4 linked regions of the Homo sapiens genome follow. The protein of the gene in region 2 interacts with the protein of the main gene of each other region in a pairwise test. Each region holds a gene or a part of one and is shown on either strand. Other genes may lie near its edges. The genes, in order: MALT1, PHYH, LHX6 and KLHL20.

Region 1 (7,025 bases), on a different chromosome or scaffold from region 2:
CTTTCAAGATGGTAAAGATTAGTTTTGAGGAGGTTGGCTGGGGTGAGAAGGGTTGGAGAATTTGGGAACGTTAAGCTCATCCCTATGGAGATCAGAAGAATTAAACGGACTTTTTTTCAAAAAACAGCACTGGGAGCTTGGGGGCTGGACAGTGAAGCAAGGTCAGCTGGGGATGCTTACTCTATTTAAGACAAAAAAGTTATTGTAAAGTGATTTCATGCTGTTGGGAGAAGATCTGTGATACTAGAAGGTCCTAAAGGTATTTTTTCTCTGGTGCCAAAGACAGGAATTATAGTGTGAGTGTCTAGTCCGTGTGGGTGACAAGTCCCACGAGGCTGTGAAGTGCTTTCTTCAGTCACTGGATCTGCAGCCCTAGAATCTCGAAATGTTGCCCATTCTGTTTCTTTTTCTTCTCTTCACTTTTTTTTCTGACACTTTACATCTTTCCTCAAACTGGGTGAAAATTTAATAATACAAATAAGTAAACCACAAGAAAAGAGCCCGTTCAAACTGTCTACAAGAGATTAGAAATAATTGTAAATGTTTTCATTGCTGATGACTCAGAGTAAATCCTTGTTGATAGCTTAGTTCCCCACAACCATGTACATTTGGGAATGTGCTATAGTCAGACCCGGCCCTGATTCCATTCAAGACTGACCTGGACACCCTTTGCTGTTAGTGTAGATAGACACAGACTCTGAGGGTCTTGCCCAAGCTATGTAAATTCTTTGGTGGCATGGAACATCTGAGCCCTAAGGATGGCAGACCTTCCAGGAGGTTCTAAATGCTGCCTAAAATTCTGTTAAGTAGGGAGCTTAGAAATGGGGCTGTGGAACCTGGACCATGGAAAAACAGTCATTGCATACCTGCTGAGTAGAAGGTGCACTTTTAGCTGCAGAAATCCTGCTTTCATGCAGTTTATTATAGGAATGAGAACGTGTAAAAGGCTCTAACAGAAGGTTTCCTCCCAGCCTGGGAAACATACTGAGACCCTGTTTCTACAAAAAAACAAAAAATTAGCCAGGCATAGTGGCACAGGCCTGTAGTCCCAGCTACTCTGCAGGCTGAGGTGGGATTGCTTGAGCCCAGGAGTTCGAGGCTGCAGTGAGCCTCAACAATTATTATTGAAATTCATTCAGTAATCATTCATTTATGAATAATTAATATGGACAAGACAGAATTTTATTGATTTAGGTATTGTCAACCTCCAGCATGGTCGACAGAGAAGACCTTGTCTCTAAAACAAATAAACTAAAAAAGGTTTCCTTCTCGCCCTCTTGGTCTTATCCTTCAGTCCCATGACTTTACATTTATTTGGGTTGATTACTCCTAATTTCTATTTCCAGCCCATTTCTCTGCTTTGAACTCCTAGATTCACGTATGTAAACACTTGTTTGCCATCTTCTCTTGAATGACTAAGACACGTCTTAAATATAACATGTCCAAAATTTAACACGTCTTCCCTTATAAACCTCTTTCTTTCAGTTTCTGCACCCTCTGGTTGTTCAGTCCAAAAACTTCGAATTCATTCCTGACTCCACTTTTACACACAAATCGTTTTTGTCAGCCCATCCTTCCTGCTGTACCTTCACTATATATATGTAGAATCCAATGTCCACTGCTGGCACGCTGGGCCAAGCCACGTTGTCTCTCAACTAGATTATTCCAGTAGCCACTTAACTTCTCCCTGTTTTGCTTTGCTCCCACCCCAGTCTGTTACCAATATAGCAGTAAGAATTATTCTTTTAAAACATCACATCAGGTCTTATTCCTCCTCTGCTCAAAACTCTCCTATTGTGGCCAGGCGTGGTAGCCTCACACCTGTAATCCCAGCACTTTGGGAGGCCAGGGTGGGAGGATTACTTATGCCTAGGACTTCAAAACCAGCCTGAGCAACATAGATAGACCCCATTAAAAAAAAATGCCAACTCTCCTATTGTTTTTCCATCTCAGAGTAAAAACACCATTAGCTACCAGTTCACTCTTCAACCTGATATCTTCTTGTCTCCATCCCTCTCTACTCTGGTCACATGTGCTTTCTTGCCTTCCTTTGGACACAGTAGTCTTTGTACTTGCTGCCTACTCAGGCTGAGATGGTCTCCACAGGTAACCACATGACTTGTTCACCTCACTGAGCTCTTCTCTGATCATAATATTTAAAATTACCCTCTACATCTGCTCAGTGTTACCTGTCTACTTGCGTTACCTCCACAACACTTAAGACCATTGGTTAGTTGGATACATACACAAAAAGATATCTCTGTGTTTATTTAAATTTATGTCTGTACTTCTCTAGAATGAAAGATCCAGGAAGATACAGAATTTTGTTTTGTTTGCTGCTGTATCCTCAACACCTAGAAAAAACAGTGGCCTATTTTAGGTGATGGAGAAATAGATCAAATTAATGAATAAAGATTCCAAATAGTAAATGTACCAAGAGGAGAAGCAGAAGAACCTAAAAACAGCATTATGGTTTGTCCCCTAAAGGGTGTATAATACATTCTATTTGATTATATATTTTTTTAAAGATAAAAATAGAGATATTTTTAAAAAGTAAAGTACATTTGTTTCAGTCATAAAGCAGTTTTTAAATTAAATCAAAAATTCTAAATTAGGACTTTCAGAAACTACTTCAAAGCACACTCTTACAGGAATGTAACTTAAAAAGGAAAGAAAGAAAAGTTAGGTATGTATAAGCATCATCTTAGCTGAAAGCCAGTGCCCATACGGAAAATCAGTAAAAACAAAAAGAGATACAGAGTCTTCTTTTTCTCCTGTGCCTCTTGTAATGGAAGAGAAATCATCTGTACTTCAATTTGATCTTTGTTCTTTTGGGGGGGAAGGAAAGCCAAGTGTTTTTAATTTTCTCTATATCAATATAGACATTAATTAAAGCATCACTTGGTTGCATTTGATGAGATGGCTTCTTAATTTCATTTATCAGATCCTGGTAAACTTCTGAATCATAAAAATTATATTTAGCATACAGCATCCCTATTTTTACAAATCTCATTCTAATTATTTACAAAATTAGTAATCCTTGTATTGTTTCTAATACAGGTTCTTTCACTTGGGTATTTCAGAAACTAGTAAAATAAAATTTCACAAAATAAGAGCACTAACAGGCAGCTTCACCTTTTTATGTTTTCTGTCATCATAGTCACCATTGTTTCTTAAAAGAAAGAACACTTTAACACCTAAAAATGGAAAAGACAATTTTAGAATAAAAGACAGCTTTATTGTCCTTATTTTTATCATTTTACCTTGGACTGCAGATTGTGCTGCCACTGGTCTACAGTCCAGAATTTGAGACTGGTTGACTTGTGATATGATGATTCACATTTAACAAGAATGGCATATTGAATATAATAAAATTGAACTAGGATGCTTAGAAAAGAATACCTAGTAAATATAGTGATCACAGGAGGCCTTAGAGGACATTTTCAGGTTACCAAAATAATAGTTACTCAAAAAAATGTTTAAGGAAAAGCTAAAATTGTTTCAGAAATAAGCATAGTTAAGAAGTTAGCTTTAATATTCTTTTAATATCCCCATATTCTTATTGCATAATAAGAGCTAACCTTTATTGAATGTCTGTTACTTGCCAAGCACTGTGTTAAGCACTTCTTACATGGATTAGCTATTTAATTCTAACAACCCTATGAGGTAGATAATATTACTAATGAAATTAATTTGATCGTATACATTTTTTCCATATGAAATAATCAACATTATCACTGAATTTTAAATCTTGGGTAACAGTATAAATGCTATGACAGCATCTTCATAAGACTACTCAAAATGAATGAGGATTAATATTTCAAGCAATAAAATAGTTTGCTAACCTTGATTCTGTCACACCCTGGCACTATTATGTTTCACCTCTTGCATCTGTTCAGGCTTTCAGCCTTGACAATTATGATTGAAATTCATTCAGTAATCATTCATTAATGCATAATTAATATGGACAAGACAGAATTTTAGGTATTGAGGGATTTTATGTCTGCGTGTGTGTGTGTATACACACACATATATGTTTAATATGATGGGGTTTCTGTTTTCAAGGAGTTTACTATAATCTAGTTGGATAAGGCAGCTTTTCTTCATGCTCATGAAGAAAAGCTCACCGTTCTAAGGTGAAATTATGTGAGATAAAACATGAAACAAGTCTGCACATGACTGCTTAAGGCCCAAATCCAGGCTGCTACCCGTTTCATATAGCCCATGATCTAAGACTGGTTTTTGTATTTTACGAATTGTAAAACAAAAAACAACAAAGAAGAATGTGTGATAGAGACTCTATGGCCCAGAATATCTAAAATATATCCTTGCTGGCCACTTAGAAAAACAGTTGTCTATAAAATAAGTGCAGTTAGGAGACTGTGTCTATAAAGTGTGTTTGGTGGACTGGTGTGGTCTAGGAGGACCTTGTAGAGAAGCTAGAGTTAATATGGGACTGTAATTCAAATTGGCAGGAAAAGGAGCAGGATCTGCAAAGATGGATGAGGTGTGAATTCTACAGTATATCATGCAGATTATCTAAACACTTTGGTTGGCTGTTGTTGGTTATGTTTCTTTGGGAAAGTTTTTCTGTCGTTGATTGCTCGGTTTTTTCTTGATTCTTTTGTCTCCCCTTGAATGTTTAATACTTGTACTTTCCCCTTCTATAAAATGATTACAATTCATATCATTGTTCCATTCTTCATGGCCTTCTATGATCTGATCTTAACCTGTCTTTCTAATCTGGTATACCACTACTGCACACAATAACATGGAAAAGGAAATTGTATATGTATGTTAAATACTGGTATTTTTAAAAGAATAGTTTTAATAAAAGGACAATAAGACATTCTTTAAAGGAAGGGTTAGCAAACTATTTCCATAGAGGGCCCAATGGTAAATATTTTTGGCTTTGCAGCCAGGTATTCAGCTCTGCAGTTGTATCAGGAGAGCTGCCATAGACATTTGTGAATATGTGAATGAATGAGTGTAGCTGTGCTCCAGTGAAACTTTATTTACAGAAATCAGGTAGCTGAACACATTTGGCCCACAGGCCATGGTCCCTGCAATAGGATATTTCTAGGTACTTAGAAGTACTTTGGTTTTTTTCTTTCTTTTTTTTAAGACCGAGTCTCGATCTGTCGCCCAAGCTGGAGTGCAGTGGCATGATCTCAGCTCACTGCAATCTCCGCCTCCTGGGTTCAAGCGATTCTTGTGCCTCCTGAGTAGCTGGGACTACAGGCGTGCACCACCACACACCGGCTAACTTTTGTATTTTTAGTAGAGATGGGGCTTCACCATGTTGGCCAGGCTGGTCTCAAACTCCTGGCTTGATGAGATCCGCGTGCCTTGGCCTCCCACAGTGCTGGGATTACGGGTGTGAGCCACCGTGCCCAGCCTAAGTACTTTGAATGTCAATAGTACTGGTTCTCTTTCTAAATATACTTTTTAAAAATTATCAAAAGAGCCAGGAGTGGTGGCTCCAGCTCTTTGGGAGGCAGAGGCAGGATTATTGCTTGAGCCCAGGAGTTTGAAACCAGCCTGGGCAACATAGCAAGACAGCATCTCTATTAAAAAAAAATTATCAAAAAATAAATGCACATAAAAAAATCAACAGTACAAAAGGGGTTATAGTGAAAAGTAGATCATCCAGCCATGAGCTCTACTGTCTTACCCTCTGTGAGGCAACTATGGCTACGAGTTTCTTAGATACCTTTTCAGAGTTTACTCTCCATGTATAAGAACACACACAAATGATCTTGGTAATAACAAACGCTGTTCTGTATCTTCCTTTTTTCATATGAATACACACATAGACATACTACCTTGTTAATACAAATAGTAGTGTATTATACACAGTTTTTTATGTTAATTCCTTCATTTCTCAGTATGTCTTAAAGACCTATGCCTTTACCTCAGGCTCAGTTTTTTTAATGAATTAACAGTATTTCATTTGATATACATGCCATAATTTATTTAAACTAGTAATTAAGGATATTTTTAGTATTTTTCAATTGCTAACCTTGTAACACTGATTGTTCTATCCGCTTCATTTGGGGTCATTTTGTATTTCATCATCTTTGAAGAAGGAGTAAGGAAATTTTTCTGGCCTTCCTATTCCCCATTCCTAAATTAAAGGCAAAAAAACCTTTGTCAGTATCAAGGCTCAATTTCTCTCACATCCTGTTTCTGGGTTTCTCATTCTCCTGATTTAATAATCATGGGACACTTGGGGAGGCCGAGGCAGGTGGATCATGAGGTCAGGAGATCGAGACCATCCTGGCTAACAAGGTGAAACCCCGTCTCTACTAAAAATACAAAAAATTAGCCGGGCGCGGTGGCGGGCGCCTGTAGTCCCAGCTACTCGGGAGGCTGAGGCAGGAGAATGGCGTGAACCCGGGAAGCGGAGCTTGCAGTGAGCCGAGATTGCGCCACTGCAGTCCGCAGTCCGGCCTGGGCGACAGAGCGAGACTCCGTCTCAAAAAAAAAAAAAAAAAAAAAAAAAATAATCATGGGAGCTGAGTGGGAGAAGGGAATAAAGAGGAATTCCCCGTGATGAAAGAGGAGGAAAGGATACTCGCATTCATTATGTGAATAGTTTGTCACCACCCACCCACTCACTTGTGATTTATTCCATACAGCACCACCGTGGTCCAGATATATAGCAGGTGTATCATGTGGAAGAAAGCTGTTGACTTGAATTCTTTCTGTTGCTTTCAGTTGCCTAGACCTGGAGCAGTGTTCTCTTAAGGTACTGGAGCCTGAAGGAAGCCCCAGCCTGTGTCTGCTGAAGTTAATGGGTGAAAAAGGTTGCACAGTCACAGAATTGAGTGATTTCCTGCAGGCTATGGAACACACTGAAGTTCTTCAGCTTCTCAGCCCCCCAGGTAGGTTTTGTTCTTAGGATTATTCTCCAGGAGTTCATGGAGCCAAACTTAGAAGAAATTATCTCTTTTGACCAGGTGAACTGTGTTAAGTATTTTTGGAAAATGTAAATGTGTAGTGCCTTGTTTGCTTTCCCAGGT
Region 2 (7,025 bases):
CAGGAGTTCGAGACCAGCCTGACCAACATGGTGAAACCCTGTCTCTACTAAAAATACCAAAAAAAAAAAAAAAAAAAAAAAAAAAAAATTAGCTGGGTGTGGTGGTGGGCACCTGTAATCCCAGCTATTCAGGAGGATGAGGCAGGAGAATCACTCAAACCCCAGAGGCAGAGGTTGCAGTAAGCCGAGATTGAGCCACTGCACTCCAGCCTGGGCAACAGAGCAAGACTCCATTTCAAAAAAAATAAAAATAAAAAAAGTTATCTAAGAGGTCCTCACCCCCCACAACTATAGTCATTCCATGTCCAGTCGGAGTGCCCATGACCACACTGACATTTTCCCCTGGTTTGCTCCCTGAGTGTGGCTCCCGAACACCTGCTCTCCTCAAGGAGGGAGAGACCTGGTAATGCTAAGCTGCCTTCTATCACATAAACCCCTCCTGCAGATCAGAAGGAAGAAAAGGCAGAAAGGATAGGGGGACTCTCTCATGGCTGATTTTTACTGCAGGCACAGAGGAATTTCCCAGTGTAGTCCAAGTGATCTGCACTACAATCTCTGGACTTGAACTCCTGGGCTCCAGCGATCCTCCCCCCGCAGCCTCCTGAGTAGTTGGGACCACAGGTGCACATCCACGCCCAGCTTGAGGAAGGTTATTAAAATACAGAAACCTGGGTTATATTTCTCAATCAGTCTGTCTGCCAATGAGGTCTTAGATTCTACATTTTAGCAAGCACAAGACATTTTAAAGACAACTATAGGCTGGGCGCGGTGGCTCACACCTGTAATCCCAGCACTTTGGGAGGCCAAGGCAGGTGGATCATCTGAAGTCAGGAGTTCGAGACCAGCCTGACCAACATGGCGAAACCCTGTCTCTACTAAAAGTACAAAAATTAGCCAGGCTTGGTGGCACATGCCTGTAATCCCAGTTACTTGGGAGACTGAGGCAGGAGAATCAGGAATTGTTTGAACCTGGGAGGTGGGGGTTGCAGTGAGCCAAGATCGCGCTATCGCACTCCAGCCTGGGCAACAAGAGCAAAACTCCATCTCAAAAAAAAAAAAAAAAAAAAAAAAGACCACTATAGTTTGTGACTCATAGTAACAATTTTAATTGTGTTAGTAATAATAATGTCTTCCTATCAGGAATGCAAGAATCCACACTATCACAGCTAAAAAGAGCTGATCAAGCTTAGAGACGTCGAATGGCAGGAACCTTTGATATATGAACAGTTATGTCGGTTAAACTGCATTTTTGGGGAGCCAGTCATCTGAAAATTCAGCAACAGTCCTACAGTTAATATCTGAAATAATTACCACATTTCACTGTTGTTATAGTGTAAGTTATTTTAAGACTTCCTTATCCAAAGTTTGACAGTTGTACACATGATTACAGTTAGACATCAGCTATTTTATTATTTTGTTTTGTTTTGTTTTATTTATTATGTAGAGATAGGGTCTCACTGTGTCACGCAGGCTGGAGAGCATGCCATTATAGGTTCACTGCAGCCTTCAACTCCTGGGCTCAAGTGATCCTCCCACCTCAGCCTTCCAATAGCAGGGACTACAAGTGCATACCACCATGCCTGGATATTTTTAAATTTTATTTTTAGAGACAGAGCCTCACTATGTTGCCCAGGCCACTCTCAAACTCCTGGCCTCAGAGATCTTCCTCCCTTGGTCTCCTAAAATGCTGGGATTACAGGCATGAGTTACTGCACCCAGCCAACCTTACACATTTTAATGAAACCATTTTTTTTTCTTCTCCCTTACAATTACCAGAATCTGGAGGTTTGTTTATCAACATTGTGTGCATGGCCATAATATTAGGTCCAGTGAAGCACTCCACATATTTCAGAATCTAAGAAAGCAAAAAAAAAACAAAAACAAACCTTGTGGGAAATCAGAAGTATTGACAACTGGTACAAAGTACAGTAGCTATCCACACAAGAACCAAGAAGGCAATAGTTTAAGAACCAAGCGGTATTTCACAACATTGCAAACAAAGCATGAAAAACCCAGCCATTGGAAATCATTCTAAATCTATAACACGGAATGAAATGGGCTTTTTCTGAGCTAGCTGGGAATGAAACCATTTTTTCTCTACAAGAAACATAGGAGTTCCGATGAGATATTAATATAGCTTTCTTGTCAACCCAAGCAACAGAAGGTTGCTCAGTGGGAGGGCAGTTTCCTCTTCCTCATTGGAGCCTCTGCATACGAAGAGTCCCATACAATTCACAGCTGTCATGAATAGCCCGGAAGAAAGCAGAATGGTGGCTTGGAGGACATTTGACAATCGGGGACGCTTGGCACTTGACAACTCATTACTGAGATCTGGGAACCAGGAGGTGACGGGAAATGGGGAAGCAAGAGTGAACAAGCAAAGCAGGTCCCAGGAGTTAGATGAAAAATGTTAACCCAGTAATGACATGGGTCAGAGTGGCCGAGGGACACTGCATTATGAAGAAAAGGCTAACATGGGGAACCGTGACAGGGAGAGCTGGTTTAGTCGTGGGGCCTGGGAGCTGGGCTGCCGCTACCTTGTGTACAGAACCCAGCAACGGAGAGGGAAAAAGCAGAAAGGGCTCAACACTGAGGTCGGGTGCGTTAGCGCACACCTGTAATCCTAGCACTTTGGGTGGCCGAGGCGGGCGGATCACTTGAGGTCAGGAGTTCAAAACCAGCTTGGCCAACATGGCAAAACCATATCTCTACTAAAAATACAAAAATTCGCCGGGCATGGTGGCACACGTCGGTAATCCCAGCTACTTGGGAAGCTGAGGCAGGAGAATCACTTGAACCCAGGAGGCAGAGGTTGCAGTGAGCTGAGATCATACCACTGCAGTCCAGCCTGGGCAACAAGAGTGAGACTCTGTCTCAAAAAAAAAAAAAAAAAAGAAGAAGAAGAAGAAAATAAAACAACCCATGATATTCAAATTTTGATTCTGCAAAAAAAAGACTCCAAAAAATAAGCCACCTTCTACTGCTTCCTCACTTTTTGATCTCTTGTGTATAAGGAATATTGGCAATTTGAGTATGAAACCCTGGAAAGGTTATTAAAAGCCTAGCAGTCAGGCACACACTTGCTTTTTATAAAGCCTGGTATTTTTTTGTATTCATCTAGGCTGGGATTTTCTAAATGCCAGCCATTCAAGAGCCATCCTCACAACTTCTGACATAACTTGTACTGTTATTTAGCCAATGATTTCCCTACCCTTAGTTAGCTCACTTGTTTTTTGTTTTTTGTTTTTGTTTTTGTTTTTTTTGAGATGGAGTCTCGCTCTGTTGCCCAGGCTAGGTGCAATGACATGATCTCGGCTCACTGCAACCTCTGCCTCCCGGGTTTAAGCGATTCTCCTGCCTCAGCCTACTGAGTAGTTGGGATTACAGGCGCCCGCCACCATGCCCAGCTAATTTTTGTATTTTTAGTAGAGACTGGGTTTCACCATGTGTCTCAGGCTGGTCTCAAACTTCTGACCTCGTGATCTGCCCACCTCGGCCTCCCAAAGTGCTGGGATTACAGGCATGAGCCACCGCGCCCGGCAGTTAGCTCACTTCTCTTATTCAATCTTTGTTTTTTTCTTTTTTTCCAATATAGACAATGGTCTCACTATGTTGCCAGACTGGTCTTGAACACCTGGCCTCAAGTGATTCTCCTGTTTCAGCCTTCCAAAGTGCCACTTCGCCTGGCCTTTTTATTTAATCTTGTCCTAATTAACAACATTTTTGAAATCATGAGTTTGGTAGACTGTTGAGTTTTTTTCCAATACATTTAAAAATAAATATCTATTAAAATAATTTATACCTCCTAAAATCATGGCATAGACCACCAGATACTGGTCCCATTCTTCAGAAATGTAGGACACTGGCCAGGCGCAGTGACTCATGCCTGTAATCCCAGCACTTTGGGAGGCCGAGGTGGGTGGATCACGAGGTCAGAAGTTCGAGACCAGCCTGAGCAATATGGTGAAACCCTTTCTCTACTAAAAATACAAAAATTAGCCAGGTGTGGTGGCAGGCACCTGTAAACCTAGCTACTTGGGAGGCTGGGGCAGGATAATCACTTGAACCTGGGAGGAAGAGGTTGCAGTGAGCCGAGATCGCACCACTGCACTCCAGCGTGGGCAACAGAGCGAGACTCTGTCTCCAGAAAAGAAAACAAAATAAAACCCACTGATTTTACTCAATTCAACTCCTTTCCATATCCAGCTCTAAGAGCAGTGGTTCCTGGGATCAAGCGATCCACCTGCCTCAGCCTCCCACAGTGCTCGGATTACAGGAGTGAGCCACTGCGCCCGGCCAAATCAGCGGGTTTTACAGGCAGACATACACACTGGCAATTAAGCCGACGCAAAGCAAGGGTGGTCTCTGACCTCGGGGAGAGTGCAGTATCTGAAGAGCTCCTTATCTTCCTGGAAATCCTGGACCTTCGTGATCATCTTCTCACTTGGAGCATATTCGGATTTCGAAATGGTCACATCTCTCATTACTGTTAATCCTAATGGTTTCACCTCCTTTCTGCAGATTTTTTCAAACTCATTCCTAGAAAATTTAATTTGCAAATGATGTCGTTACCGCTGGCTCCAAGCACCTGCCCTGCCCTCCTCTGTGGAAAGGGTTGCAGACTTGAGGGGTGGTTTCTCTGCACTAAGTTGGCCTCCAGCTTGAGGTAGAATAATTCCAATGAAAGGGAGGAGAAACTGTCTGGCTAGAATCCATTCCCAGAATTAAATTATTCCCTAGTTTAGCATACCAGTAGGGAAGTCTTTTTATAATTTGGTTACATTGTAATAATAATAACAGCAAACATTTCTGTAACACTTACCATGTGCCCAGCTCTCTTCAAAGTGGTTTCCATATATTTCACCGTATTTAGTCCTAATAACAACACTAGGACATAAGTGCTATTATTATCCCCATTTTACAGATGAGGAAACAGAGGCATGGGATGTGAAGTAAATTGCCCCAGGACACATGATATTAAGTGGTGGAGCTGAGACTGAAGCCCAGGCATGGTGGCTCCCGACTGTAATCCCAGCAACTCAGGAGGGTGAGGCCAGGAGTTCAAGACCAGCCTGGGCAACATAGTGAGACTCCCTGTCTCTAAAAACAAAGAAATAAAAAATTAGCTGGGTATGGTGGTGCACAACTGTGGTCCCAGCTACTCAGGAGGCTGAGGCAAGAGGATTGCTTGAGCCCAGGAACTTGAGGCCGCAGTAAGCTATGATCGCACCACTGCACTCAGCCTACACAACAGAGTGAGAACCTTTCTCTATAAAAAATAAAAAGCCAGTCTGGCACCAGAGCCCATGCTTCTAAACACTTCCCAACAAACCAAATCATTAAAAAACATCTGTAAAGCCAGGAGCGAATCCACCTTGTATTCTCATTACATGCACACAATACATACTATTGTAAAATAACAAATAGTGTTACTGTACCGAAAGCGTTGAATATCGGCATCAGGTACAAGATTTTTGATTACTAGAAACCCATTTTCTTCATAAAATTTTCTCTGTTCCAGGGTTAGAACGTTATTATCCAGAGTATACCTAAAGGAGAAAAAGAATCCCAAAATAAGTTACATTTTTAAATTACAGGCTAGGCACAATGGCTCACACCTCTAATACTAGCACTTTAGCGGGCCGAGGCAAGTGGATCACTTGAGGTCAGGAGTTTGAGACTAGCCCAGGCAACATGATGAAACCCTGTCTCTACAAAAAATACTGGTTGTGCCACTCCACTCCAGCATGGGCGACAGAGTGAGACCCTGTCTCAAAAAAAAAAAAAAAATTTAAATTACATCCTAAAAATATGTATCAAGAACCTGAGGCTAGGCGTGGGGGCTCATGCCTATAATCCCAGCACTTTGGGAGGCCGAGGCAGGTGGATCGCCTGAGGTCAGGAGTCTGAGACGAACCTGACCAACATGGTGAAACCCCATGTTTACTGAAAACACAAAGTTTAGCCAGGCATGGTAGTGGGCACCTGTAATCCCAGCTACCCGGGAGGTTGAGGCAGGAAAATCGCTTGAACTTGGGAGGCGGAGGTTGCAGTGAGCTCTGATCATGGCACTGCACTCCAGCCTGGGCGACAGAGCCAGACTCCGTCTCAAAAAACAAAAACAAAGACAAAAACAAGAACCTAGGAAACGTTCATGCTCTTCAATTCAGCATTTCTAAGACCAAGGAAATAATCTGAAAACTTACGCTTTATGTCACCAAAACAAGTGCATTAGTGGGCCGGGCACAGTGGCTCATGCCTGTAATCCCAGCTTTTTGGGAGGCTGAGGCAGGTGGATCACCTGAGGTCGGGAGTTCGAGACCAGCCTGACTCACATGATGAAACCCCATCTCTACTAAAAATACAAAAATTAGCGTGCCTGTAATCCCAGCTACTCAAGAGGATGAGGCAGGAGAATCGCTAGAACCTGTGGGGGTGGAGATTGCAGTGAGCCAGGATTGCACCAGTGCACTCCAGCCTGGGTGACAGAGCAAGGCTCCATCTCAGAAAAAAAAAAAAAAAAAAAAGTGCATTAGTGGAAGAAAAATTAACTAGTGACACTATGTTCACTCAGTGGAATATGACTCAGACATTAAAAATTAAGGCCATATAATAGTATGGATGGCGGGCACAGTGGCTCATGCCTGTAATCCTAGCTTTGGGAGGCTGAGGTGGGCGGATCACGAGGTCAGATCGGGACCATCCTGGCTAACACGGTGAAACCCGCCTCTACTAAAAATGCAAAAAATTAGCCCGGCATGGTGTCTGGCGCCTGTAGTCCAGCTACTGGAGAGGCTGAGGCAGGAGAATGGCGTGAACCCGGGAGGCGGAGCTTGCAGTGAAGCAAGATGGCACCACTGCACTCCAGCCTGGGCGACAGAGCCAGACTCGGTCTCAAAATAAAATAAAATATAATAAAATATAATAAAATAAAAAATAGTATGGACAATGCTTATTATAATAAAATATTATTACAATTATGTAAAACCAAGACACTATATGAAAAAAAGAAAAGCCTGCAAAGA
Region 3 (7,261 bases), on a different chromosome or scaffold from region 2:
ACCATGAATGACGTCCGAGTAGGGTTGGAACTCGAAGCCCGAACGCACTGGAAATGCAGCCGGACGACGGCTGGGATCCGAGTGGGTCCGGGCCAGAAATGGGGACCTCAGAGCTCCACCGAGGCGCTCGAGGTCAGAACTGAAGCCTGAGACTTAGGCAGGACCCGAGACAGAGCCAGAGACGATACCGAAACCCAATGGACCGCGAGGACCGAAGGCAGATCCGGGGCGCAAACCTGTGCAGGCACTGGCGCGCTGCCTGGAGCTCTGGGTTCGCGCCGCTGAGCGCCGGCAGGTTGGACCAGCGCTGCGCGCCGGAAGTGCACTCGGGACGCCGGGGTTCTGGAGGAGAGACCACACGCCGCAAAAGTGGCCTCCGAATGCGCCCGGGGCCTGCCCTCGGCGACACTGCTGGCTCGGCGGCCGCAGCCTACCTGAAGTAGTCCATCTTGCAGAAGATCTCCTTGTTCTTGATGTAGCAGCTGTTCTGCTGCCTCAGCGACGTGCGACACACGGAGCACTCGAGGCACCGCACGTGCCAGATGAGGTTGTTGACCTGGGGACGGGGCGGGGACGGAGGTCGGCTCAGCGCGGGCCTCTTTCACTCCGGGCCCCAGCCTTCCCGGTCTCATTTACAGTCAGAGGCGCTGAAGCTCAGAAGGTGCATGCGATTCCCCTATTTTTCTCCCGTAATACTGAGACTCAGGGAAATGGAAATAAACTCTTCTTATTTTTCAGACGGAACCCGGGGGCTCAGGCAGACCCTAAGTCTTGCCCAAAGCTTCGCAGTCGGGCAGCAGTGGAGCCAGGATTTGGAAGTAAGAGGACCTGCGGTGCTTCCCTGCAGTCTCCTGCGCTGCGTCCCACGCCCCGACAACACGCACGCAACACCTACCCCTGTCTCACCTTGAGCAGATATCGGTCCAGGATCTCGAGGCCGCAGCTGGAGCAGATGTTCTTGCCTGCAGACGGCACGGAGGAGGCGGCAGAGGGCGGTGAGCAGACAGATGGCGTGCTGGGCGTACATGGGGAGGCCTGACCCTCGTCCTTGTCCAGAGCTCCTGCCAGGGCCTCGGCGTCAGACTGAGCCTGCGGCGGGGGAGAGAAGGAGAGGAGCGCTGATCCGGGCACCCAGAGTTGGGGCTGCCTTGGAGACAAATCTGGGGCCCCCGAGCACCAATTGACAACGAAATCTCCCCAGGACAATGCGCCGTAGACTGAAGGACAGGGATGGAAGGGCCTATTGGAGAGGAAGGGACGGCCCCAACTTTTAACACGCGCATTCTGGGTGCTGGGAGCGGTTAAAGCCAACATTCCCTGCCGGAAAACCGAGGCTCAGAGAGGGGCGGCGCCCGCCGGGAGTCCCCCAGAGCGTGAGCAGCAGTTCGTGGCCGGAAAACCTGGCCAGGTCCCCAGGGCCGGGCCGCTGGAGGACTGGGCACCGCAGGCAGGGCCAAACGGACTCACCATGGCGGGCGGCGCGGTCCCTTCAAGACAGCGGGTGGTCGCTTTGCAGCCGGACCCTGGCTGGGCCATCACCTGGGGGAGGGGGGGAGGGAACGCAGGCGGCGGCGGCTGCTGAACTGGCTCCGCACAGCCTGAGCCCAGCGCCTCCCCGCGCCTGTTATATAAACCGGCGCCGAACAATGAGTCCTAACTTTGTAGTGGGCATTTAAAGCCCTTCCCCACAAAAGCGGTGTCTCTCTAATGAAGCAATTTGAATTTGGATTGGATTTTTTCCCTCTCTCTCCCCCTCTCCCTGCACTTAACCCGTGGCTCTTGAAGTAATCGCTTAGTTCCCTTGCAATCCAAGCCTCTGAGGGGGGAAGAAAAACACGCGCACACACACACAAACTACCTGCAATTAGAAATTGTCGTGAATGCCCAAGATAAGAGGTAGCCAGAGTGTCAATTCCAACTGTCAATCAGTGAGATCCATCAGGCCGCCCAAAGAATTGCAAATTTGATTTTTTAATGGTAGTAATTAAAAATCGAATTTTTTCTCTCTCCACCCGCCCCCCCACCCCACTCCCCTTCCTCGCTCCCTTCTCCTCTCGGCACAAAATGCAAAAAGGAGAAAAGAGAGAAAGAAAGAAAATAAAAAAGAGATGGGTGAGGGGCGGAGGGTGGTTGAAGAAAAGAAAACCCCGAGCGCGGTGAGCACCCGCCCGCCCGCCCGCCTGACACGCGCGGCGAAATTGAAGCAGCTATATTGACACGGATTCAGGCGCCTTTCGAGGGCCAGTCGGAGGGAAACCCGGAGCAAAAAGAGAGCGAGATCGGGGCGAAACGGGACCAAAAAGAGAAAAGAGAGGCGCTCAAGGGGAGGAAAAAGCACCCTCCAGCCCCTCGGCGCGCCGGGTACCGGCCCCGCGTCGGGATTCTCAGCGCTGCGCCGGCACAACCCCCGGCGCATCGGCGCTATCAGCGCCTATTCAGACGGACAATACCGGCCTCGCCTCCTCTTGATTCGCCTGTGTCTTTACTAAATCGCTTTTTGAGAAATTCCTCCAACATTTGCATAATGTGTTCCCGCTTTCCGCGACCCCCCCCCCCCGCTCGCGCGCGCGCTCCCACACTCACAAGCACACACTCACAGGCGCACCCTCGTACCCCTCCTTCCTGCAACCGCCCGCCACCCTGCTCGGCCCGGCTGGGTCCCGGACCCTGCCCGACCCCGGCCCGGGCCGCTCACCCAGTCGTTCGCCGGCTCACCTGGTCGGTGGCGGGGCCGCCCTCGGCCGGCAGCCGGCAGCCCTCGGGCAACGCCGGGGCGGCGTTCTCATGCTTCCAGTACATGGGCCGGGGAACCTCGGGCTCAGCGGGCGCGCAGCGCGGAGAGCTGCGCCGAGGGGGACCACAGCCGCAGTGGGAGCAGAGGCTGCTGCAGGAGCAGGAGGAGAGCCGAGGCGCCGGCCCCGCCGCCCCGGGCCCGGCCTCAGCCCCCGCCCCCGGCCCGCGCGCAGCCCCGGCCTCCCTGGCTGCTGCCGCCGCTGCCTCGGAAGAAGGTCCCGACAAACTTGGAGAGGCCCCCGCCCCCTCCTTCTTCTCCTCCTCCCCCTCTTGGTAGTCCTCCTCCTCCTCTCCCTCCTCCTTGTCCTCCTCCCCCTCCAGCTGCAACGGCGGCCGCCCTGCCGCTGGAGCCCCGCTCGGTTCAAGATGAGTCATGCGTGACCAATCCCCTCCCCGCCAAGGGAGAGCAAGACACACACGACGAGGCAGAGACCCAGAGAGAGAGACACACACACAGACACAGAGACACACAGAAACTCAGAGCTGCCGACAGAGAGACTCGGAGACACGCCAGTACACAAAGGCACCGGCGGGCACACATCCACCCAGCTCTCACTACCGCTCCTCCCTCAAGGGGCACCCATCTTCCTCAGACACTGCCCCACTCACAGGTACAGGAGGGACCCATGGCCATACCATCTGCGGAGATAGATTCCGTAGGAGGTCACACGTTATTACACTGTGTTGATGCAATCCCATGCCTGGTACATTTGTGTACACACTAATGTAAGTGATTACCTGTTCACATCATTTACACGGGCACGAGGCACCACACTTACTCTCACACACCTGCACAGATACCTCTGCTCTATAAGAACCAGACAGTGCACCAGCTCCCAGGGACTGAGGTGAAACGGGAGGGTAGTTTCCCTGAATTCTCTTGGAAGGGATTGCTTGGCACATTCCCCTTCCCTTCAGGATTTGCTTAACCACACAGTCCAATGCCCATCCCTTCTTCTCTAGGGTTCTACTGACAATGAGAATGGTAGGGAAGGCAGGAAGGCCCAGGCATTTAGACAGAAGACACTGCCCCCAGACACACAGACACAGAACCTTCAAACCCAAAGATGGAGCCTTACACACACTAACGCCCTGCAGCATACACAAGTGGACACTTAGAGTCTCAGCCCCCTTCTCCACACACAAACTGAGCCTAAAGAGACACATGTAAACATACATCATCTAAAAACAAATAAGCACACTCAGACATAGATCCAGCCCTACAGACACCATGACAGCCTACCCTCACCACATCACACATGTCATCACCTCCATAATTGCCCTCATTTACAGATGTAAACACCCCCCCACACACAATTGTTCTTCCATTTGTACACACAGCCATACTCAAGAGGGCACAGATTTTCACAGAGCTCCAAACCCATGTATAACCTTATGTCCTCTACTCAGGCACCCTCAAATATGTACTTACATCCTTACAGATGGTGAGACAACTATTGATAGGCATTTATAGGCAGACACATCACACACACTTCTGCAGCCATAGATTCCCAATAGTTATAGTCTCAGTTTGCACACACACAGGCAGGTTCTGACAGGCGCAGGTAGTAGAGGATGCCTGCACACCAACACGATACTAAAGATCCACACCCATATTCCCCAAAGATACAAATATCTGTTCCTTTACTGGCATCAAGGTACACAAAAATAGCCCCAGCCTCAGCTAATGGCATTTCCCGCCCTCTGCATCCCAGTCATTCATTGCTCTCAGACACAGAAATTCAGAGTGAAAAGAGTTTCTCTTTGAACCCTAATCTTTTATACGAAGAGAACAAGTTGCAATGTGAAAGCGGGTGAGGTGTATGCATAGGTACACATGTGTACACACATACACATGCATTCTCAAACATGAATACAGAAGAACAACCCCTCCCTCTCAAATATCTCCTTTGCACATAATAATTTCAGCTACTACTGGGATTATTCCCAGTTATTACAGCTACTAATCTGTGCCAGGCATGATACGAGGCATTTTACAATCGTGATCTCATTTTCTTTTCACAATAATCCCGTGAGGTAGCATCTCTCAGCGTGCTTGTTTTACTGATCAAGAGACTGAGGTTCAGAGAGTTCATGTGATATATCCAAAATGGTGCACATGGCTAATTGCCAGAACCAAGGACTTAAAACCACATTCATCTCACATTAGAGCTCATACTCTTGATTTCTAGGCTGCAGACATGACCATGTTTACTTTCTGCACACACACATGTGCACACACACACACACACACACATACACACACACTCCACATTATCTGTTAAAAGACCTGGATGTGACTCCCAGCCTCACCACTTATAGGCTCAGCCTGTTTTCTCATCGGCAAAATGGGAATAACAATAGGACCTGCTTTACCTCCTTCTCTTCCTCCCCTTTGGGTGGCTGGGGGAATTGAAAGGTTAATAAACGTTATAGAATGCTGCACATATGCCAGATTTGTGAGTGCAGAAGGGCCCCAGGAAAGAAGACCATGAAGATCGTACTGGCTTTGCAAAACTTCTTAGACATGAGCCATGGAAGAGGCTTGAGCTAAAACTAAAGGGCAGGTGAAATTTGGATGGGTTCAGGGAGAAGAAGAAAGTATTTCAGGTAGAGAGAGGACCACAAAGGTTCAGAGGCTGGACAAACAAGCTGCTGCACTCTAATGAGGGGGAATGTGAAGCATGTGCTCCTAGAGTGATAACAATAATAACTATTTATTGAGCATTTATGTGCTAAGCCCTTTGTTGTTTACACGCATTATCCTCTTTAATCCTTGCAACTACCCTACAAAAAGGTTATATTATTATCTTTCTTTTATAGTTGAGGAAACAAGCTTACAGGAGTCCCATCTGAAGCTCTGGCACTCAGATTTTAGAACCCAAACTCTTACCTACTATGCAATTCTGCTCCTGAATTCTGATTAAGTGCTCAGATAATAAAAACTGGAGTAAGAGGCAGTAAAGTCAGTAGTGAAGCACAAAGACTCTAGGGCCAGATGGCCTTGATGCCAACCTTGGCATCTGTTTTCTATTCCCTTTATTACTTTATTACTTGGGTAACCCTGGACAAGTTCTTCAGCCACTCATCAGCCTCAGTTTCCTCATCTGTAAAGTGGGGATAACCGAGTTCAACTCCTATGGTTGTGAAAATTACGCAAATGATCCATGTAATAGGGCTCAGAAATATGCCAGGCACACAGTAAGCAAATGATAAACAGCCATCATTATGGCAATGGACCGGCTGAATCTTGTGGTTGTGATTCTACTAGGTACTACATCAAATTCTTTATGAAGGCAGGGGATGAATCAACCAAAAAAAATCAAATCTTCTCCTGAATAACTTACCTAAGGAAGATGCAGAACCATTATTCGAGCCCAGAACTTGCCTAACTTCAAAGAGGACAGAAGTGAAATTACTTTGGAAAAGAAATCTCTCTTCCAATGACTCCTGACTCCATCTTTTTCCATCAGGAAAAAGAGTCCAGATAGGAGTGACCTTGGCAAAATTAGGATTAGCAAACATAGTACCTTCCATTAGGATACTTGATTTCTTCCTATGACAAACTGTGGGTCACTTTGAGTCACTTAGCTTCTCTGAGCCTCAGTTCCTCACCTGCAAAACGGGGAATAATGATACTGACCTCTCAGAATTGAAGTGACAACTAACTATACATTAAAAACTAATATTTTGGCTGGGTGCAGTGGCTTATGCCTGTAATCCCAGCACTTTGGGAGGCCAAGGTGGGTGGATCACAAGGTCAGGAGATCAAGCCCATCCTGGCCAACATAGTGAAACTCAGTCTCTCCTAAAAATACAAAAATTAGCCGGGTGTGGTGGCAGGTGGCTATAGTCCCAGCTAGTCGGGAGGCTGAGGGCTGAGGCAGGAGAATTGCTTGAACCTGGGAGGCAGAGGCTGCAGTGAGCCGAGATTGCACCACTGCACTCCAGCCTGGCAACAGAGTGACACTCGATCTCAAAAAAAAAAAAAAAAAAAAAAAAAAAGAACTAATATTTTTTAAAGTGTTGTAGATTTATTCATTTATACAACCCTGAAGCTGTATTAAGCACCCTACATGAATAATGGCATCTTCTCACTTTGCAGTTCTTCTCCCGGTCACTAAACAGGATGTGGTCATCTGGTCCTCTGGGGTGAATTTTGCCATCTTCCCCCATTTGAGTCTAGGCCCAAGGGTTCAGTTTGAAAGAGGCTTCATTAGTAACTGGATAATTCTGTGGGAGGCCCCCAGCAATGGTTCGACCCTGCCGGGGAGTAATTCTAGGAAGGTAATGTGAGCTGGGGGAGGCTGGAGACCCAGCTTCACATTTATTTACTTTGACAGCTAAATTGGTGAGCAAGGGGGAAATCAGATGAAAGCCATTTCAGAGTAAATACTAAATACGAAATTTAAACATTCAGATTGTGACAAATGAGAAAGGGACAATGGGAAGAGACACGGCAGCACCC
Region 4 (7,025 bases), on a different chromosome or scaffold from region 2:
GCCAGTATCACCCTAATACCAAAACCAGGAAAGAACATAACAAAGAAACAAAACTACAGACCAGTATCCCTGATGAACATAGATGCAAAAATCCTCCACAAAATAATAGCTAACTGAATCCAACAGCATATCAAAAAGATAATCCACCATGATCAAGTGGGTTTCATACCAGGGATGAAGGGATAGTTTAACATATGCAAGTCAATAATTGTGATATACCACATAAACAGAATTAAAAATAAAAATCATATGATCATTTCATTAGATACATAAAAAGCATTTGACAAAATCTAGCATCAATTTATGATTGAAATGCTCAGGAAAATCGGCATAGAAGGGACATACCTTAAGGTAATAAAAACCATCTATGACAAACCTGCAGCCAATATTATACTGAACAGGAAAAGTTGAAAGCATTCCCCCTGAGAACTGGAACAAGACAAAGATGCCCACTTTCACCACTTCTATTCAACATAGTACTTTAAGTCCTAGGCAAAGCAATCACACAAGAGAAAGAAATAAAGGGCATCCAGGACCAGGTGCAGTGGCTCATGCCTGTACTCCCAACACTTTGGGACACCGAGGCAGGTGGATTGCCTGAGCTCAGGAGTTTGAGACCAGCCTGGGCAACATGGCAAAACCGTGTCTCTACAGAAAAATACAAAAATTAGCCGGGCATGATGGTGCGCATCTGTAGTCCCAGCTACGTGGGGGGCTGAGGCGGGAGGATCGCTTGTGCCCTGGAGGTCAAAGCTGGGGGACAAAGCAAGACCTCATCTCTTATAACAAACAAACAAATGAAATAAAGAGCATCCAAATTGTTAAAGAGAAAGTCAAACTGTCGCTGTTTGCCGACAATATGATTGTATACCTAGAAAACCCTAAAGACTCATCCAAAAAGCTCCAAGAACTGGTAAATGAATTCAGTAAAGTTTCAGGGTACAAAATTAATGTACACAAACCAGTAGTACTGCTATACACGAAGAGCAACCAAGCTGAGAATCAAATCAAGAACCCAACCCCTTTTATAATAGCTGCAAAAAAAAAAAAAAAGATAAAATACTTAGGAATATATCTCACTACAGAAGTGAAAGGTCTCTACCAAAACACTGCTGAAAGAAATCATAGATGACACAAACAAATGGAAACACATCTCATGCTCATGAATGGGTAGAATCAATATTGTGAAAATGTCTATACAGCCAAGAGAATCTATAAATTCAATGCAATTCCCATAAAAATACCACCATCATTCTTCACAGAACTAGAAAAAACAATCCTAAAATTCATATGGAACCAAAAATGAGCCCACATACCCAAAGGAAGGCTAAGCAAATCTGGAGGCATCACATTACCTAATTTCAAACTATTTTACAAGGCTATAGTCACCAAAACAGCATGATACTGGCATAAAAATAGGTACATAGACCAATGGAAAGAATAGAGAACCCAGAAATAAAGCCAAATAGTTAAAGCCAACTGATCTTTGACAAAGCAAACAAAAACATAATGTGGGGAAAGGACACCCTATTCAGCAAACAGTGCTGGGATAATTGGCAAGCCACATGTAGAAGAATGAAACTGAATCTTCATCTCTCACCTTATACAAAAACCAACTCAAGATGGATCAAAGACTTAAATCTAAGACATGAAACCATAAAAATTCTAGAAGATAACATTGGAGAAACCCTTCTAGACATTGGCTCAGGCAAAGAGTTCATGATCAAGAACCAAAAGCAAATGCAACAAAAACAAAGATAAATAGATGGAACTTAAACTAAAAAGCTTCTGCACAGCAAAAGAAATAATCAGCAGAGTAAATAGACAACCCACGGAGTGGGAGAGAATGTTTGCAAACTACAGATCCAACCACAGACTAATATCCAGAATCTACAAGGAATTCAAACAAATCACCAAGGAAAAAAACAAATAATTCCATCAAAAAGTGGGCTAAAGACCAATAGACAATTCTCAAAAGAAGATATACAAATGGCCAACAAACATATGAAAAAATGCTCAACATCACTAATGATCAGCAAATCAAAACCACAATGTGATACCACTTTACTCCTGCAAGAATGGCCATAATTTAAAAAATAAAAACATAGGCCGGGTGCGGTGGCTCATGCCTGTAATCCCAGCACTTTGGGAGGCCAAGGCGGGCAGATCACCTGAGGTCAGGAGTTTGAGACCAGCCTGGCCAACATGGTGAAACCCCATCTCTACTAAAAATACAAAAATTAGCTTGGTGTGGTGGCAAATCCCTGTAATCCCAGCTACTCGGGAGGCTGAGGTGGGAGAATCGCTTGAACCCGGGAGGCGGAGGTTGCAGTGAGCCGAGATCATGCCACTGCACTCCAGCCTGGGCAACACAGTGAGACTCTGTTTCAAAATTAAAAAAAAAAAAAAGATGTTGGCATGGATGTGGTGAAAAGGGAACACTTTTACATTGCTGGTGGGAATGTGGACTAGTGCAACCACTATGGAAAACAGTATATGGAGATTTCTTAAAGAACCAAAAGTATATCTACCATTTGTTCCAGCAATCCCACTACTGGTTACTGCCCAGAGGAAAAGAAGTCATTATATGAAAAAGACACTTGCATGTGCATGTTTATAGCAGCACAATTCACAACTGCAAAAATACGGAACCAGCCCAAATGCCCATCAATCAACAAGTGGATAAAGAAAATGTGGTATGTATATATACCACAGAATACTACTCAGCCATAAAAAGGAACAATATATTGGCCAGGAACAGTGACTCACGCCTGTAATCCCAGCACTTTGGTAGGCTGAGGCAAGCAGATCACAGATCACTTGAGGTCAGGAATTTGAGACCAGCCTGGCCAACATGGTGAAACCCCATCTCTAATAAAAATACAAAAATTAGCTGGACATGGTGGCATGTACCTATAGTCCCAGCTACTTGGGAGGCTGAGGCAGGAGAATCACTTGAACCCAGGAGGCAGAAGTTGCAGTGAGCTGAGATTGAGCCCCGTTGCACTCCAGCGTGGGCAACAGAGCAAGTGAGACTCCATCTCAAAAAAAAAAAAAAAAAAAAAAGATAGAATGGCATTTGCAGCAATCTGGATGGAGTTGGTTGGAGACCATTATTCTAAGTGATGTAACTCAGGAATGGAAAACCAAAAATGATATGTTCTCACTTATAAGTGGGAGCTAAGCTATGAGGATGCAAAGTCGTAAGAATGACACAATGGACTTTGGGGATTCAGGGGGAAGTGTGGGAGGTGGGTGAGAGATAAAAGACTACACATTGGGTACGGTGTACACTGCTCGGGTGGTGGATGCACCAAAATCTCAGAAATCATCAATGAAGAACTTATTCATATAATCAAACACCACCTGTTCTCCAAAAACTATTAGGGGGAAAAAAACTATGGTCCTGAGCTGACCACTTTACTGCAAAATAAATAAAAATATGATTTTTTAAAAAGTTGTAAAACAGACCATGTTTTGTCTTTGCTTAAAACCCTTTAATGGTTTTCTAGCACTCTTAGGATCAATCTCAAATTCTTTTTTTTTTTTTTTGAGATAGGGTCTGGTCTGGCTCTCTCACCCAGGCTGGAGTGCAGTGGCACGATCTTGGCTCACTGCAACCTCTACCTCCTGGGCTCAAGCCATCCTCCCACCTCAGCCTCCTAAGTAGCTGGGACTAAGGGTGCACGCCACCATGCCCGACTAATTTTTGTATTTTTTGTAGAGACAGGGTTTCGCCATGTTGCCCAGGCTAGTGTTGAACTCCTGAGCTCATGCAATCTGCCCGCCTCAGCCTCCCAAAGTGCTGGGATCACAGGCATGTGCCACTGCACCAGGCCAATCTCAAATTCTTAACATAGTCTATCAACCTCAGTGTGATTTAGCCCTCTTCTTTCTGTGTAATCACTATGTAACATCCTCTACCCCCCTTGGTCTCTGGGTCTCACTGGGTTTTTTTCAGGTCTTCAAACTAGTGATGCTTTTTAATGTCTTGGGATTTTGCACAAGTTGTTCCAGCACCAAAGTTAAATTTCTCTGTAATACACTCTTAAATCATCCAGGACTGCTTCTTTGTAACACCCATTAACTGTAGTTAATTATTTGTATAATTAAGCATTTAATGATTATCTTCCCTGCTAGATTATAAACTCCATGAATACAGAGACTCTAGATTTCTTGTTCACTATTGTACCCTATGCTCCCAAGCACAGTGGCTGAAACATAGTAGCTTTACAAATATTTGTTAAATAAATAAGGGAAAGATAGGTTTAATGAAAATTATTTTGATAACATCTAAACTCATCTTTTCAGATTATTAGTTTACCAAACAACCTATAATCTATAATTTATTCTGAATAATCCACATAATCAGGAAGGAAATATCTTATATAAATCATGATACCAGGTATCCTATCAGGCATAGATCCTCTTGTGAATTACTCTATTTTGGCTTATAAATAAACCTTTTTAAAAATTTTTTTTTAAATACTTTTATGAATACAGTTAGGGAGAATAAATCCCTAAATCTTAACTTGCTGGTAGAACACAAAATTGCCCTCTAAAATAAAAGCCAGGTTTAGGATTTATAATAACTTATTTATTTGCTATTATGAGTTAGAATCAGCAGGAAATACCCAGGCAAGTGTTATTTAGCAGAATGTGAACCCATATTGCTCTCCAACAAATGGGTGCATTGGAACACCAAGTGCAACTCACCTCTTGAAAGTTATGTTGGGTGAACTTGTCTGCTATCCTTAGCAACTCACGACATGAATGTGTGTCAGCAAAAGCCCGAATGCCCAGGCAGTTAGAAGGATCTAATTGTCTCTTTAAGAATTCACAGCAGGCTTCCTGTATTTCTGCCAGCTGGAGGAGGCAAGCAGCTGGCAGAAGAGTCTGAACATTGCCCTCTTCTACTGTTATCTGGGAGGTATACGCAAAGTCAATCAGTAATTCCATAGCCCTCTCGTCAATGTCTCGGATCACTACTTCTGTCTGACGGCTCTCTGCCAATTCTCCTGTAAACATAGCTCGGAAGTAGGGACTACAGGCTGACAAAATGACTCGATGGGCATATATCTTCTTGGCGCCCACAACTAGCACCACATCACATAGCTCCCGGTGCTTTCTCAGAAGGTTAATCACTTCCAAGGTTTGTCGAGGGTGCTTGTCTGAGATATAGGGCATGCGGGCAGGTTGGGGAACCCCTTCTGGCAGTTTGTTGGGGTCTCCAAGGGTGCAGCGGCTTGTTACATCCATTCCAGTCTCTCCTGGTCGAATGTTGGTACACCTATAGGAATGATGGGGGAGAGAGAGAAGATGGCAGTATTATTATAAGCTCTTTTCTCCCCTTAAATGTTTGTAATTCAAGCGATAAGGAAATGTAATTAGCTTGGTGATTTTTTTTTTAAATTTTTTGTAGAGATGATGTCTCACTGTGTTGCCCAGATTGGTCTCAAACTCTTGGGCTCAAGTGATCCTGTTGCCTCCACCTCCCAAAGTGCTGGGATTGTAGGCATAAGCCAACATGCCTGGTCTACATAAACCATTTAAATTGAGCTACTATAGCAATAAAACTTTTAGATCAGGTGGTTATGCTTATCCATTTTAAAAATTAAGCCCAAGTTAACACGCTTCAATTAATAGTTAAATTTCAAATTAAAGACAATATAAAAAGTTTGGACTGACGGCCTGGTGTGGTGGCTCATGTCTGTAATCCCTGGGAGACTGAGGTAAGCTTATCACTTGAGGCCAGGAGTTCGAAACCAGCCTGGTGAATGTGGCAAAACCCTGTCTCTACTAAAATTACAGAAAAATTAGCCGTGTGTGGTGGCACATGCCTGTAATCCCAGCTGCTTGGGTGGCTGAAGCATGAGAATCACTTGAACCCTGGAGGCAGAGGCTGCAGTAAGCCGAGATTGCATCACTGCACTCCAGTCTGGGTGACAGAGACTCTGTCTCAAAAAAAAAAAAAAAAAAAAGTCTGGATTGAAGTTTATCTTTATATAGAAATCTTTTCTTCAAAGTTTATTAAAATTAAAATAGTAAAGAAAATGGCAAGCTAAATGATGATTTAGCAGGACTCCAAAGAGCCTCCAGGTCAAGATTTTGTTAGATTAATTTGGGTCTAATTTCATATCTAGAGATATTAAATATGATAAGCTTCATTTAAAAGTACTACATATGTTGAATTGCTCCTGTCAAATTGGTCTGAATCACTGAGGTTTCGGTATGATTATAAAATAAGTGAATAAGTTCATAAACAGACATTCTTCAATTTATAAATAAGTAGTATTTAAAAGTTGAATCTAAAAGTTTATTTGGAGGTTTGCATTTTTCTATGGTAAGAGTGCTGTAAATGGGGACTAGGTTTAGTTGTAAAATTCAGTGCCTCATAAGAAGCATTAAAAAATGAAATAGAAAGTAACAGCATACATTTCATTTAGTTAAGCATGTTCAATTGTGTGTATGTACACACACAAATTTGTATAGATACGCATCACTGCTTCCCCTCGTAAACTGCAGGTTATATCAAAAAAGCTTAAATGCCACTGGCCTGAGTTTTGAAATCCCAAGACAAAAGGAACAATAGGTACAAGAAGGGAGAAGGAAAAGAATCTCTCTCTTTTTCAGATTATTCTACCATTTGTTGTTGCTGGGTTTTTTTACTTATTGATTTTTTTTAATTTTTGAGATGAGGGTCTCACTAAGTTGCCCACGCTGGTCTTGAACTCCTAGGCTCAAGCAGTCCTCCTGAGTAGCTGGGATTAAAGGCACATGCCATCACACTGGTTTTTTTTTTTTTTGAGACAGAGTCTGGCTCTGTCACGGAGGCTGGGCTGCAGTGGCGCAATCTCGGCTCACTGCAACTTCCGCCTCCTGGGTTCAAGTGATTCTCCTGCCTCAGCCTCCCAAGTAGCTGGGACTACAGGCATGTGCCACCATGTCTGGCTAATTTTTCGTATTTTTAGTAGAGACGGGGTTTCACCGAGTTAGCCAGGATGGTCTTGATCTCCTGACCTCGT

Evidence for each region.
Region 1: the proteins of PHYH (region 2) and MALT1 interact in binary tests that used the Homo sapiens proteins (3 or more experiments, as listed by UniProt).
Region 3: the proteins of PHYH (region 2) and LHX6 interact in binary tests that used the Homo sapiens proteins (3 or more experiments, as listed by UniProt).
Region 4: the proteins of PHYH (region 2) and KLHL20 interact in binary tests that used the Homo sapiens proteins (3 or more experiments, as listed by UniProt).

Annotation. Positions count from the first base shown.
Region 1 is NC_000018.10:58,674,450-58,681,474, forward strand, and holds part of MALT1 (mucosa-associated lymphoid tissue lymphoma translocation protein 1), read left to right. Parts: intron 1-3,160; exon of another isoform or gene 3,161-3,197; intron 3,198-6,022; exon of another isoform or gene 6,023-6,127; intron 6,128-6,720; coding exon 6,721-6,887; intron 6,888-7,025. UniProt on the Homo sapiens protein: Protease that enhances BCL10-induced activation: acts via formation of CBM complexes that channel adaptive and innate immune signaling downstream of CARD domain-containing proteins (CARD9, CARD11 and CARD14) to activate NF-kappa-B and MAP kinase p38 pathways which stimulate expression of genes encoding pro-inflammatory cytokines and chemokines.
Region 2 is NC_000010.11:13,290,058-13,297,082, forward strand, and holds part of PHYH (phytanoyl-CoA dioxygenase, peroxisomal isoform a precursor), read right to left. Parts: intron 5,550-7,025; coding exon 5,439-5,549; intron 4,540-5,438; coding exon 4,371-4,539; intron 1,856-4,370; coding exon 1,774-1,855; coding exon of another isoform or gene 1,768-1,773; intron 1-1,767. UniProt on the Homo sapiens protein: Catalyzes the 2-hydroxylation of not only racemic phytanoyl-CoA and the isomers of 3-methylhexadecanoyl-CoA, but also a variety of other mono-branched 3-methylacyl-CoA esters (with a chain length of at least seven carbon atoms) and straight-chain acyl-CoA esters (with a chain length longer than four carbon atoms).
Region 3 is NC_000009.12:122,225,942-122,233,202, forward strand, and holds the start of LHX6 (LIM/homeobox protein Lhx6), read right to left. Parts: upstream 3,017-7,261; 5' UTR 2,800-3,016; coding exon 2,716-2,799; intron 2,493-2,715; exon of another isoform or gene 2,417-2,492; coding exon of another isoform or gene 2,366-2,416; exon of another isoform or gene 1,859-2,365; intron 1,601-1,858; exon of another isoform or gene 1,540-1,600; coding exon 1,468-1,539; intron 1,090-1,467; coding exon 907-1,089; intron 557-906; coding exon 435-556; intron 1-434. UniProt on the Homo sapiens protein: Probable transcription factor required for the expression of a subset of genes involved in interneurons migration and development.
Region 4 is NC_000001.11:173,731,978-173,739,002, reverse strand, and holds part of KLHL20 (kelch-like protein 20), read right to left. Parts: intron 5,291-7,025; coding exon 4,717-5,290; intron 1-4,716. UniProt on the Homo sapiens protein: Substrate-specific adapter of a BCR (BTB-CUL3-RBX1) E3 ubiquitin-protein ligase complex involved in interferon response and anterograde Golgi to endosome transport.